Linked DNA regions of Homo sapiens. The protein of the gene in region 3 purifies or fractionates together with the protein of the main gene of each other region. This does not show direct contact. Each region holds a gene or a part of one and is shown on either strand. Other genes may lie near its edges.

Region 1 (4,026 bases), on a different chromosome or scaffold from region 3:
TATAAAATATATACGTGCCAAAATAAATTTGATAGGAACATTGGAACCAGGTAAGGTGACGCATACCTGTAGCACTTCGGGAGGATCCTTTGAGCCCAGGAAGTCGAGGCTTCAGTGAGCCATGACTGCACCACTGCACTCTGGCCCAGGCAACAGTGAGATCCTGTCCTAGAAAGAAAAGAGAAAAAAAGAAAAATGCGATTTGGAAATGTGGAGGTCGAGGTTGACAGCGACACCGAGGTCGAAGCCAGTTGCCCCTGGAGAGCGAGAGACTGGGCTGGGCCGACTCCCACCTCTGTCGCGAGAGGCCTACGGGCAGGGGCAGGTGGGCAGGGGGACTGTGCTGGGTCTCTGGCCGCGTCTGGACGGCAGGCGACACTTTCTCCACAAAAAGCGTCAAGAAACCACGACACTTGGTTTCTGGACTTTTCCGCGGAACAGTAACCAGAACAATCGCCATGAAGGTTCGTTTCTGTCATGGCTCAGTGCAGCCTGGACGCCCTGGACCAGCCCCTCCTGCGCCTGGGCCACGGCCGCTGCCTTCAGGGCATCACTGGTGGGCGGCACAACCATCCTCCCTTTGGGGGGTTAATTTCATTTCTTTCCTCCCTTCTTTAATGGTGAATGGAGGAGCACCGAGCACCACTGCAGTCTCAGTTTCAGATCCCAGCGCCTCGTCCCTGCCCACTGCCCTCGGCCCCGCCCGCCTGCATTGGCAGTGCCCTGGCCCCACCCACCCGTGTCAGCACCGCCCACCGCCCTGGCACCACCCACCGAGTTCTCGCCCATGAGGAAGGGGGACCCTGAGTGGAGGTTTCAAACCTTAGGGGCCGTCCCTGCCGTGCAGGGCTCTGTGAGGCCTCTTGCCACATAGGCTTGTGTCTGCAGGACTGTGCGGCATTTACTCCCATCTCAAATACCCCATACAGGGCAGACTGCCCCTGCCCCACCTGCCCACCCACTCCCCAGCCTCTTCCGCACGCCTCCTCTGGAAGGGGAACGGGCCACAGAGTGAAATGGGGCCTTCCAGCTCCAGTGCGGGGACTTGGAAGGCCTGGCCCGGTGTGGGGGCCCCTCTGCCCTGCAGGCCACTCTGTGCAGGCCTATCCTCAGGTGTGCCCTCGCCCAAGGCCTGCACGCACCATGGCTTCTGTGGTACCAGTGATAACACCATGCCGGGCACCTCCTGCAGTCACCACCCCTGGGCTGCTAGGGCAGAGACAGCTGCGGTGGCCCGGTGCACCTGCCTGGCCTCAGGATGGCCGAGGCGCCTGGCAAGGCTGCAGGGTCCCAGGGGCACCTGTCCGTACTGCTGGGCGCCTGAGTTCCTCCTGCTGGGCACTGTCAGGGCAGTGCGCCTCAGGCTGTGCTTGTCTCTGCAGAAATGTCCTGGCCCCGTACGCGGTGCCCTCGGAGCTGGTGCTGGTGGAGGAGATCCCGCGGAACCAGATGGGCAAGATTGACAAGAAGGCGCTCATCAGGCACTTCCACCCCTCATGACCCGGCAGACTGGGACTGCGGGTCTGGTGGGGAGCAGCAGACGTCCCCTTCACACCGAGAACCACGGGGGCCCGTCCAAGACCTGGCCTCCCTTAAACCTGAACCCCCCAAATCAGGTCACGTAGAATCAAGAACTGTTTGGGATGAAATCACCATGTGGGGTCCCCAGCCTCGGGCCAGTTGTTGCAGCTCAAGGAGACCGTCCCTGGTGTCACCTCTGCCTGGTCACCGCCGACCTCATCTGTGCAGCGCGGTGCAGCCAGCCCCTGGCCCCACGTGCTGAGGCACCTCCCGCCCCACAGTGCCCTGCAGTTGCCAGGCTCTCCAGGGCAGGTCCCAGAGGTTTCCCACAAAAAACAAAGACTCCACTGGAGGAAACAAGCCCCTGTCCCACGCCGTCTGCACGTGCCTGTGCCTCACCCAGAGCCAGTGTCTCCCGGCCCACATAGGAGGTCTGGGCAGCCACCCAGGGGGCCCTCCTGGGAGGAGCTGAGGGTTCACAAGCCTCCCAGAACCAGCCCTGTCCCATGGGTTCCGTGCATTTCCTGGTGCTGCTCTTGGAGGAGAGCAGCTCCCACTGTGGGGACACCTGCCACCCTGCACACTACTGTGTGTCCATCAGCATGTGTCACAGAAAGTGCGTGGACGGATGGCCCCGGAGCTGCTCTGCCGTGACCCTGCCTCACCCCCCAGCGCAGGGACTTTCCAGGTCATCTCCACACCAGCCCCTCAGCCGGTGAACCCTCTCTCCCATCACCGTCTCCACCCAGACCCCCACCTGCCCCATGGCCCCCATTTCATGTCTGTGGCTCACCAGCTTTTCCCCAGACCCAGCTCCGGAGCCCACAGGCGTGGCCGATGCAGAAACCTCAGGAAGGTGTGTTGTGAATGTTGGGTGCACCCACGTTGCATTTACTTAGCGGGGCCAATTCAGATGCACAGGGGCCACATGCAGAATCCAGAAGTTTCTGGACAATTTTCAGAAGAATAGGCTGCCTCCTCCCCACAGCCTGGGGGAAGTAACAGTCATCGCCCAGCAGTGTCTGGCCTGAACTTACCCAGAACATTCTGCCCCCGGAATGCACGTCTGAAAGAGTGGCCAGAAACGAGTGTGCCGGGCAGGAGGCCAGCCCCATCTCAGGCTCACGTGCCTCTGACAGGAGACCAGCCCCATCTCAGGCTCACATGCCTCGCGGACAGTTGGACGTGGCCTGGGGCCCCTGCTCACTTGAGCATGTCGCCCACCAAGCTTGTCTGAGGCCACAGAGCAGCGTCCCAGCCCTGTTTTCCAGGACTGGTGGGTGCCCCAGTCCACGGCCCTGCCCCACCCGAACTCCTGCCTCACGGTGTGGCCTTGTGCATCCCCATGGCCTGACCCCGGGAACAGTCAGAGGAAGGGGTCCCGCCCTCCCGCCAGAGGCCTGGACCCAAGGGAACGGCAGTCAGAGACTACAGTCCAGACGTTTGTGTCTAGGCCTTGCTGGTAGCTAAGGAAATGCCTTCTGTTGGGAAAAGGTCAAATTTAACATAGCAAAATTTTTACTTAATTCCACTAATTTTACATTTGCATCTCTCTCCTTTAATCCTGAAACTTTTGATTCCTAAAAAGCTTACATAATCATTTGCTTTATCCGATAGTATACATCAGTATATCATGCTTTCGAAATAATGAGTGTAACTTTCTGCTGACAATACTACAAACTACAGAAAGCCTGGAGCTCATTGACCAGAAACTGCAGAGAGCCTGGAGCTCGTTGACCACAAACTACAGAAAGCCTGGAGCTCGTTGACCAGCCGGTTGACCAGAATACGGTGCTCCAAGGACATGCGGTTGAATGCCGTGTTCTAAAGTCACGAGTGACTCTCCAGCTGGTCCCTGTGCCAGGCTGGTCGGCCTTCGTGCACACAGTCCGCCAGTGCCCAGCCAGGCCCCTGGTTCCCCTCTGCTCCACCAGCCGAGAACAAGCCCGTCCTGGAGGGAACTCATCCTCTCCTCCCTCCCCATTAAAGCCCAGTTTATTCCCCATCTTGGCCTCTGGTGCTGACCTGGCCTCTGGAGACACAGGCCGGGGGGTGCTGTTTGCGAACTCACCGTGACTGAGCTCCATGAGGATACCACAGTCCCACGTGGCTGGCAGCGCCCACCCCACACACCCTGCCCCTTGCTGGGCGGCCCCATGCCACAAAAGTTAGACCCAGGAGCAGGTGCCCTGGGAGCAGGCTGCCACCAGCTGGGTCAGAAGCCCCTCTACATGCCTGGTGCTTTTGACCTCCTAGGGAGGCTGGCTTGAATCTGGAAAGTCACCAGTTCTGACCCCAGCCAGACACAGGGGTGCTGCCAGGAGCTGCTCCCAGGCGGGTGGCCCAGCTTCTCTCAGGCACCAGGGGATGGCAGGACTCCTGGTGACCAGCTGGTCCCCAAAGCCGTGGCACCGCGCCTGCTGCTGCCAGCAAAGTCCCACACACAGCCTGTGGCAGGTGCCGCCCCATTCTTTCTGCCCCTCCCTCATCAGGGGCCAGGGTGAA
Region 2 (3,644 bases), on a different chromosome or scaffold from region 3:
AGCACCGGTCAGTAGAGCTGAGGCCGAGGATCCCTGGCCTCAGATTGCATCCCCTCCATGCCACCGCCCTTCTCTTCAGGGCGCGGTGAGGGAAGGGCGTGTGGGGGTCCCTCTGGGGAGAAGGTGTTTTCACCTTCACACTCACCCTCACTCCTCCTGTCCTGGAACTTGGGTGGGTTTGACCTTTTGTGGATGAGGTGAGGGCTGAGAGGTGGATTACTACCTGAGACAATCAAAATCAATTTTCTTTCTTCTGAAAAGGACTCAGGGTGTTTGAGAAAAGTACTGGGGAGAGGCAGCTGCCACCGGGGCTCCCCACTCGGGATGTGTTGGGTGTTTTGCGAGACCCCCCACAGGGAGCTCAGGTGCTGTGGGCAGTTCCTGGGCTTTGTCGAGGGCCTCCCGAAGGCAGCACTGTGGCCACCGTGGGACACATGCAGCCTGTCTCATCTCTAGGAGCTGCCAGGTGAGGGGTCCTGCGACAGGCACCTGTGCAAAGATATCTACCATGGGCAGCAAGGAAGGTTCCAGAAAGTACCGGAGGGAGAGTTGTGTTGGGGCTTGGGGGCTTTCTAGAGCAGAGGCTGTGAGAGGAAGTGAGCTGGGTCCCAGCACCAGGCAGCCTTTAGGCAGCTGTGATTGGAACAGCACTGTGGGCAGAGGGCAACAGCGTAGGACGTGTGTGGAAGTGGGGAGGTGCCGGAAGATTCAGAGACACAGGGTGGTGAAGGCGAGCCTGGAGAAGTGGGCTGGGGGCATGCTGGGAGGGGGCGGTGACGCTTGAGTCTCTAGGGCACCGGGGGCCTGAGCAAGGTTAATACCTGAGTAGAGAGTTGAGGCAGTCTCTTTTTAGAAATTAGAAGTTAACTATTGCTGTGTAATGGGGTCACCCCAAAACTTCGCAACTTAAATTAACAAAACTTATTTCAGATAGTTTCTGAGGGTTGGGAATGTGGGAGCACTTTGTTGAGTGATCCTGGCTTGGGGTCTCTCAGAAGTTGTAGTCAGGATACCAGCCAAGCAGGGGCCACATCATTTGAAGGCTGGACTGGAGCTGGAGGAGCCACTCACAAGTTGGCTCCCTCTAGTGGCTGTTGGTGGGAGGCCTCAGTTCCTCACCACGTGGGCCTCTCCGTGAAGCTGCTTGAGGGTCCTCACAGCGTGGCGGCTGCCTACCCCAGAGCCCCTGACCCGAGACTGAGGGCAAGGAGGAAGGCCTGTGCCTTTTGTGAACTGGCCTTGGAGATGGCACACTGTCACTTCCATCACATTCTGTTTGCTAGAAGCAGGTCACTAAGTGTAGCCCATGCTCAAGGGGAGGGGAATTAGGTTCCAGTATGGAAGGGATGAGCATCAGAGATTTGTGGACACACTGGAAAACCCAGCATTGGCATCCCAGCGTGTGAGGGTGAAGAAAAGTGGGGAGACGGAGTCTCTGCCCAGGAGGTGACCAGGTGAGAGGCAGAGGCAGGAGAGGGGCTGGAGTGAGGACCCCCATGTCACCCAGAATGTGTGGGGGGCTCATCTGGAGGCTGGGGTGGAGCGACAGCTGGCCACATGGGCCCCCTTCCCGATAGTTTTTCCAGGCTGACTTGCTAATCCTTTTCATCCTCTGGGGCCCTGGGACCATCAGTGTGCCCATCTCTGAGATGGGGTGGTAGCGTACTCGTCTCTGGAAGCATTGTGGGTATTAGCAAGGTCGTGGCAGGCGTGGAGACGTAAAGGGGTTCAGGGATGTGCTCAGGGCCACCTGTGGCAGGCACAACGGTCCTGGCTGACCCCGCCACAGCACCAAGAGGGAGAGGGGAGAGCCTCGTGGGTGCTTGGTGCGCAGGGGGCAGTGTGGCCGTGGCCGCTGAGCAAAGCTCTGGGGAAGGGGGCGCCCAGCCCTTGGGGTGGTCTGTGCAGAGATGCCGTTGGGGTGAGTCCGTCTGTCAGGGCACCGCCGCCACGTCTGTGTGCTGTCCCTCTGGTGAGCATTGGTCATGAACTGGCGTGACCGTGGTGGAGCTGCACAGTCCCAGCTGCGGGGCCGGTGCCGTGCGACTTGATTTGGCCTGAGACCGTGTGGTCTTTGACGTAAATACCAACAATTGGCCCCCAGGAAAGTGTGTCCTTGCAGAACTTCTGGAAAAGGGGTGGTTCCAGTAAGACCCTGGCTTGGTGGAAGATGGGAAGGGCGCTTTGTAAACTCTTTCCGAGGAGTCAGGAGGCCGTGGCGTCTGGTGGAGAGACGGTCAGCCTCACGTGCCTTGGTTTCCTGTGCTGGGTGCTGCAGCACGGCAGGGTCTGGGTAAGAGGGGGCAGCAGCACGAGAGTCAGGCCCCGGCTGCCGCCCGCCCTCACGTGCCCCGTCCCCCAGGCACGGGCGAGAGCGGGAAGAGCACGTTCATCAAGCAGATGCGCATCATCCACGGCGCCGGCTACTCGGAGGAGGACAAGCGCGGCTTCACCAAGCTCGTCTACCAGAACATCTTCACCGCCATGCAGGCCATGATCCGGGCCATGGAGACGCTCAAGATCCTCTACAAGTACGAGCAGAACAAGGTGAGCCCGCGGGCGCCTGGGGAGGGGAGCGCCTGGGCAGCTGTGGGCTTGGTGGTGAGCATGGTGGCCGCGCTGCCAGGGTGGGGCCATGCCGGGGGTCCCGGCCGGCCCAGGCTACCCCTGGTCATCCATCCGTTCCTGTCATGGACATGGAAACAGCAACCGCTGACTTCCTGGGGGCCAACTGGAGAGTTGTGATGGGCATTGCGTGGCCAAGCCCCACAGCCTCCCTCCCAAGTAGCTGTGGGCGCCCACATCCTGTGGGTGGGGAAGCTGAGGCCCTGGGGAAGCTGAGGCCCTGTGAGGTGAGCCACTCGCCCAGGTCGCCTTGGGAGTAAGCAGCGTGAGCTCCTGGTTCCGGCCCCTTCCCCAGGCTGAGCAGCCTACCAGGCACCTCGTTTCGGCCCTGACACTCACCCATGGGGCTGTACTTCTCACCTTCTCACACTGTTTTTTTGTTTTGTTTTGTTTTGTTTTGTTTTGAAAACAGGGTCTCGCTCTGTCGCCCAGGCTGGAGTGCAGTGGAATGGTCAAGGCTCATCACAGCCTGGACCTTCTGGGCTCAGGTGATCCCACCACAGCCTCCCGGGTAGCTGGGACTGCAGGTGCATCACCACGCCTAGCTAATTTTTGTATTTTTTGTAGAGATGGAATTTCACCATGTTGCCCAGGCTGGTCTTGAACTCCTGGGCTCAAGCAGTCCTCCCGCTTTGGCCTCCCAAAGTGCTGGGATTACAGGTATGAGCCACCATGCCTGGCCTCCGCCCTGGTTTTTTTTCTTTTTTTTTTGATAAAGTAGAGGTCATTTGATGCCCTGTTTTTAAATCACAGCTTTATTGAGTTATAATTCACATTCTATGCACTTCACTTGCTTAAAGTGTATAATTTGGTGGTTTTCGATATGTTTGCATAGTCGTGCAGCCATCACCGCTGTCGGATTCCAGATTTCATTTTCTCAAAGGAAGCCCCTTCCCCATCGGCCGTCACTCCCACCCCCTCCTCCAGCCCCGGCACCCACACATCCCCTTCCTGCCTCTGTGGATCGGTCTGTCCTGAACATTTCATAGAAATGGGATTGCACGCCATGTGGCCTTTTG
Region 3 (3,644 bases):
TGCAGAGGCTGGGGCGGGGCCTCGCAGCGTGCCACGTCGGTCTCGGGGCTCTGGGGAGAGCGGCATCTAGAGGAGCTGGGGGTGCAGGAGGCGGATGTCTGAGCTTAGTGTCTTTATTCCTGATAGTGTTTGAGTGACTGCCTGGCCCTACTATGAGTCATCCTGTGAAATCGTCTCAGGACCCTGCCAGGTGCATCATTGTTGCCACTCAGCAGAGCCAGTAGGTGGGGGAGGCAGGATTCGAACCCAGGCCTTTCTGACCTGACTTTGCAATGCAATTCCTTTTTTTTTTTTAATTTAAATTTTATTTATTTATTTATTTTTGAGACAGGGTCTCGCTCTGTCATCCAAGCTGGAGTGCAGTGGTGCCATCATAGCTCACTTCATCCTCAATCTCCTGGGCTCAATTAATCCTCCTACCTCAGCCTATCAAGTAGCTGGGACTACAGGCATATGCCATCATGCCTGGCTATATATATATTTTTAAAATTGTGTACAGACAAGGTCTCACTATGTTGCCCAGACTGGTCTTGAACTCCTGGGCTTAAGTGATCCTCCATCTCGGCCTCCCAAAGTGCTGGTGCTGGGATTACAGGTGTGAGCCACCACCCTTGGCCTCCATCTTTGCTTTTTTTTTTTTTTTCTTTTTTTTTTTTTGAGACAGAGTCTCATTCTACACACCCAGGCTGGAGTGCAGTGGCGCGATCTTGGTTCATTGCAACCCCTGCCTCCTGGGTTCAAGCGATTCTCCCACCTCAGCCTCCCGAGCAGCTGGGACTACAGGTGTGCACCACCACACCTGGCTAATTTTTTTGTATTTTTAGTAGAGACGGGGTTTTGCAGTATTGGCCAGGCTGGTCTTGAACTCCTGACCTCAGGTGATTCACCTGCCTCAGCCTCCCGAAGTTCTGGGATTACAAGGCATAAGTCACCACGCCTGGCAAGGCAGATGCTTTCTGGGTCAGTAAGTACCATGTGAAGAAACCCCAGAGACTTGGAAGTATGTCAGAGAGCAGTCGGTTCAGAGAGCAGTCGTTTCAGAGAGCAGTCGGTTCAGAGGGTCCAGGGCACAATGGGAGGTGGGAGGGAGTAGGGAAGATGGGGCAGACAAGGAAGGTGGGCAACAGTGCCGAGGGGTTTCACCCGGGAGAGGGAGCAGCCTCCCTGGGCATCCCAGATGGACTTCAGGGCACAGGATGGAGGAGACAGGAGAGGTCGGCTCAGGAGGGGGACCACAGACTCCTGGGAGGTGATGGTCCTTGGGACTAGGAGCAGGACCCATCCCAGAGCGGGGAGGAGGTGGAACAACAGGCCTGGGAGAGCTCCACACCAGACAGTGTCCAGGGCCCATGGCATTTCCAGAGCCAAGCACAACATGAATTTATGCTGAATTGTGCTGTGGAGTGAACGGTGTTCTTGTCCGTTCCTAGTATTTAAGGAATAAGAATTCGTTAACTTGAGATGAATTTGAAAATCTTGGCCAATAAATCTGATCTTGAAAAATTACCCAAAATGGGTTTGGGCATGGTGGCTCACTCCTGTAATCCCAGCAGTTTGGGAGGCCAAGGTGTGCGGATCATCTAAGGTCAGGAGTTGGAAACCAGTCTGGCCAACATGGTAAAACTCTGTTTCTACCAAAAACATACAGAAATTAGCGGGGCGTGGGAGCAGGCACCTGTAGTCCCAGCTACTCAGGAGGCTGAGGCAGGAGAATTGCTCTTTACCCGGGAGGCAGAGGTTGCAGTGAGCCAGATCACACCACTGCACTCCAGCCTGGGTGACAGAGTGAGACTCTCAAAAAGAAAAGCAAAGAAAAGAAAAATTACCCCAAATGGGCCGGGCGTGGCGGCTCACGCCTGTAATCCCAGCACTTTGCCAGGGAGGCCAGAACACGCGAAGAGCCCTGAATAGGTGGGGTCTGTACCTGGAGTTGACTGAGCGTGTGAAGCCCCCTGGCCTTTGTCCATGTGGCGAGCCTTTAAAGTAAAAATCAAAATGGCCTCGGCCGGGCGCCGTGGCTCACGCCTGTAATCCCAGCACTTTGGGAGGCCGAGGCGGGTGGATCATAAGGTCAGGAGATCGAGACCATCCTGGCTAACACGGTGAAACCCGTCTCTACTAAAAATACAAAAAATTAGCTGGGCGTGGTGGTGGGCGCCTGTAGTCCCAGCTGCTTAGGAGGCTGAGGCAGGAGAATGGCATGAACCCGGGAGGCGGATCTTGCAGTGAGCCGAGATCGCGCCACTGGCCGCTGCACTCCAGCATGGGTGACAGAGTGAGACTCGGTCTCAAAAAAAAAAAAAAAAAAGTAAAAAGAAAAAAGAAAAAAAATTACCCAAAAGGTAGTGAAGGCCTTGAGCCTCAGTACTACCAGGGACTGGGTGGGGGAGAAAGTGGAGGCAGGGCTTAGATGAGTGAGCTGGTGTCTCTGTGAGTCCTTAGCTGGTGGGGTGGGTTGCGGGTACATGAAGTCATGCTCCAGCCTAAGGGGCACGTGGGCACGTGTCATTGTCCCCAGAATAGTTAGCATTCACCTTGTGCCTTTGCTGAGAGCCATGCACTGAGCCCATCCTCCCTGCCATAATCTGCTGCGATTGCAGCCTTGATCATTCCCATTTCCCAGATGAGGCTGTGGGAGCTCAGGGGGAGCTGAGTCTCTCGCAAACACCGGTGCTTGACCTTGGCCCTGGAGCCATGCAGAGTAGAGATAAGGGCGCCCCTTGTAAATCTCCCCTCTCCCGCAGAAGGCATGGCAGGAAGTGGCCGGGTCTGCTCGGGAGCAGCCGAGCTGGAGGCTCACACCCTGGAGTCCCCCGGCCATGCAGCCAGCTTGGCGCCACCCTCCCTCTCGACCTCCTCCCACTGCAGACCTGTTAGTGTTGGGTTGAGAAGCGCAGGATCAAACCCAGGACTTTCAAATGGCAGAGCAGATTGCTAGAAGCCTCTGTATTTCCTGTCTGGTGGAGTCACCAGGCCCTGGATCGGCCGCTTTGATTCTCAGCTCGAGCCACTGCGAGGCTCCGTGCGTGGGGAGCGGGGTGGTTATTCATGCTCTGACCCAGGCATCCTGGAGAACCAGGACGGGCGACTGCTTTGAGAACCAGACGGGCGACTTTTCAGAATCTCCCTGCTTTAGAAATTTGACGCAAAATGCATGTAAAATTTGGGCTTTCCCACTTTTTTTTTTTAAAAATGGTCTCATTCTGTCTCCCAGACCGGAGTGCAGTGGCATGATCACAGCTCACTGCAGCCTCGACCTTCTCTGGCTCAGGTGATCCTCCCACCTCAGCCTCCCGAGTAGCTGGGACTATAGGCACATGCGACCATGCCCGGCTAGTTTTTTTTTTTTTTTTTTTTTGAGACAGAGTCTCACTCTGTCACCCAGGCTTGAGTACAATGGCATGATCTCAGCTCACTGCAACCTCTGCCTCCTGGATTCAAGCGATTCTCCTGTCTCAGCCTCCAGAGTAGCTGGGATTACAGGTGCCCACCACCATACTCGGCTAATTTTTTTTTTGTATTTTTAGTAGAGACGGGGTTTCACCATGTTGGCCAGGCTGGTCTCGAACTCCTGACCTCAGGTGATCCGCCCACCTCGGCCTCCCAAAGTGGTGGGATTACAGGCGTAAGCCACTGTGCCCGGC

What was found.
Region 1: the proteins of FBXL18 (region 3) and ACSF3 purify together in Homo sapiens (affinity purification with western blotting, with the first as the bait; one study listed by BioGRID). This does not show direct contact.
Region 2: the proteins of FBXL18 (region 3) and GNA11 purify together in Homo sapiens (affinity purification with mass spectrometry, with the first as the bait; one large-scale study listed by BioGRID). This does not show direct contact.

What each region holds. Positions count from the first base shown.
Region 1 is NC_000016.10:89,152,708-89,156,733, forward strand, and holds the end of ACSF3 (malonate--CoA ligase ACSF3, mitochondrial isoform 1 precursor), read left to right. Parts: intron 1-1,382; coding exon 1,383-1,500; 3' UTR 1,501-3,526; downstream 3,527-4,026. UniProt on the Homo sapiens protein: Catalyzes the initial reaction in intramitochondrial fatty acid synthesis, by activating malonate and methylmalonate, but not acetate, into their respective CoA thioester. May have some preference toward very-long-chain substrates.
Region 2 is NC_000019.10:3,107,787-3,111,430, forward strand, and holds part of GNA11 (guanine nucleotide-binding protein subunit alpha-11), read left to right. Parts: intron 1-2,362; coding exon 2,363-2,547; intron 2,548-3,644. UniProt on the Homo sapiens protein: Guanine nucleotide-binding proteins (G proteins) function as transducers downstream of G protein-coupled receptors (GPCRs) in numerous signaling cascades.
Region 3 is NC_000007.14:5,496,745-5,500,388, reverse strand, and holds part of FBXL18 (F-box/LRR-repeat protein 18), read left to right. Parts: intron 1-3,644. UniProt on the Homo sapiens protein: Substrate-recognition component of the SCF (SKP1-CUL1-F-box protein)-type E3 ubiquitin ligase complex.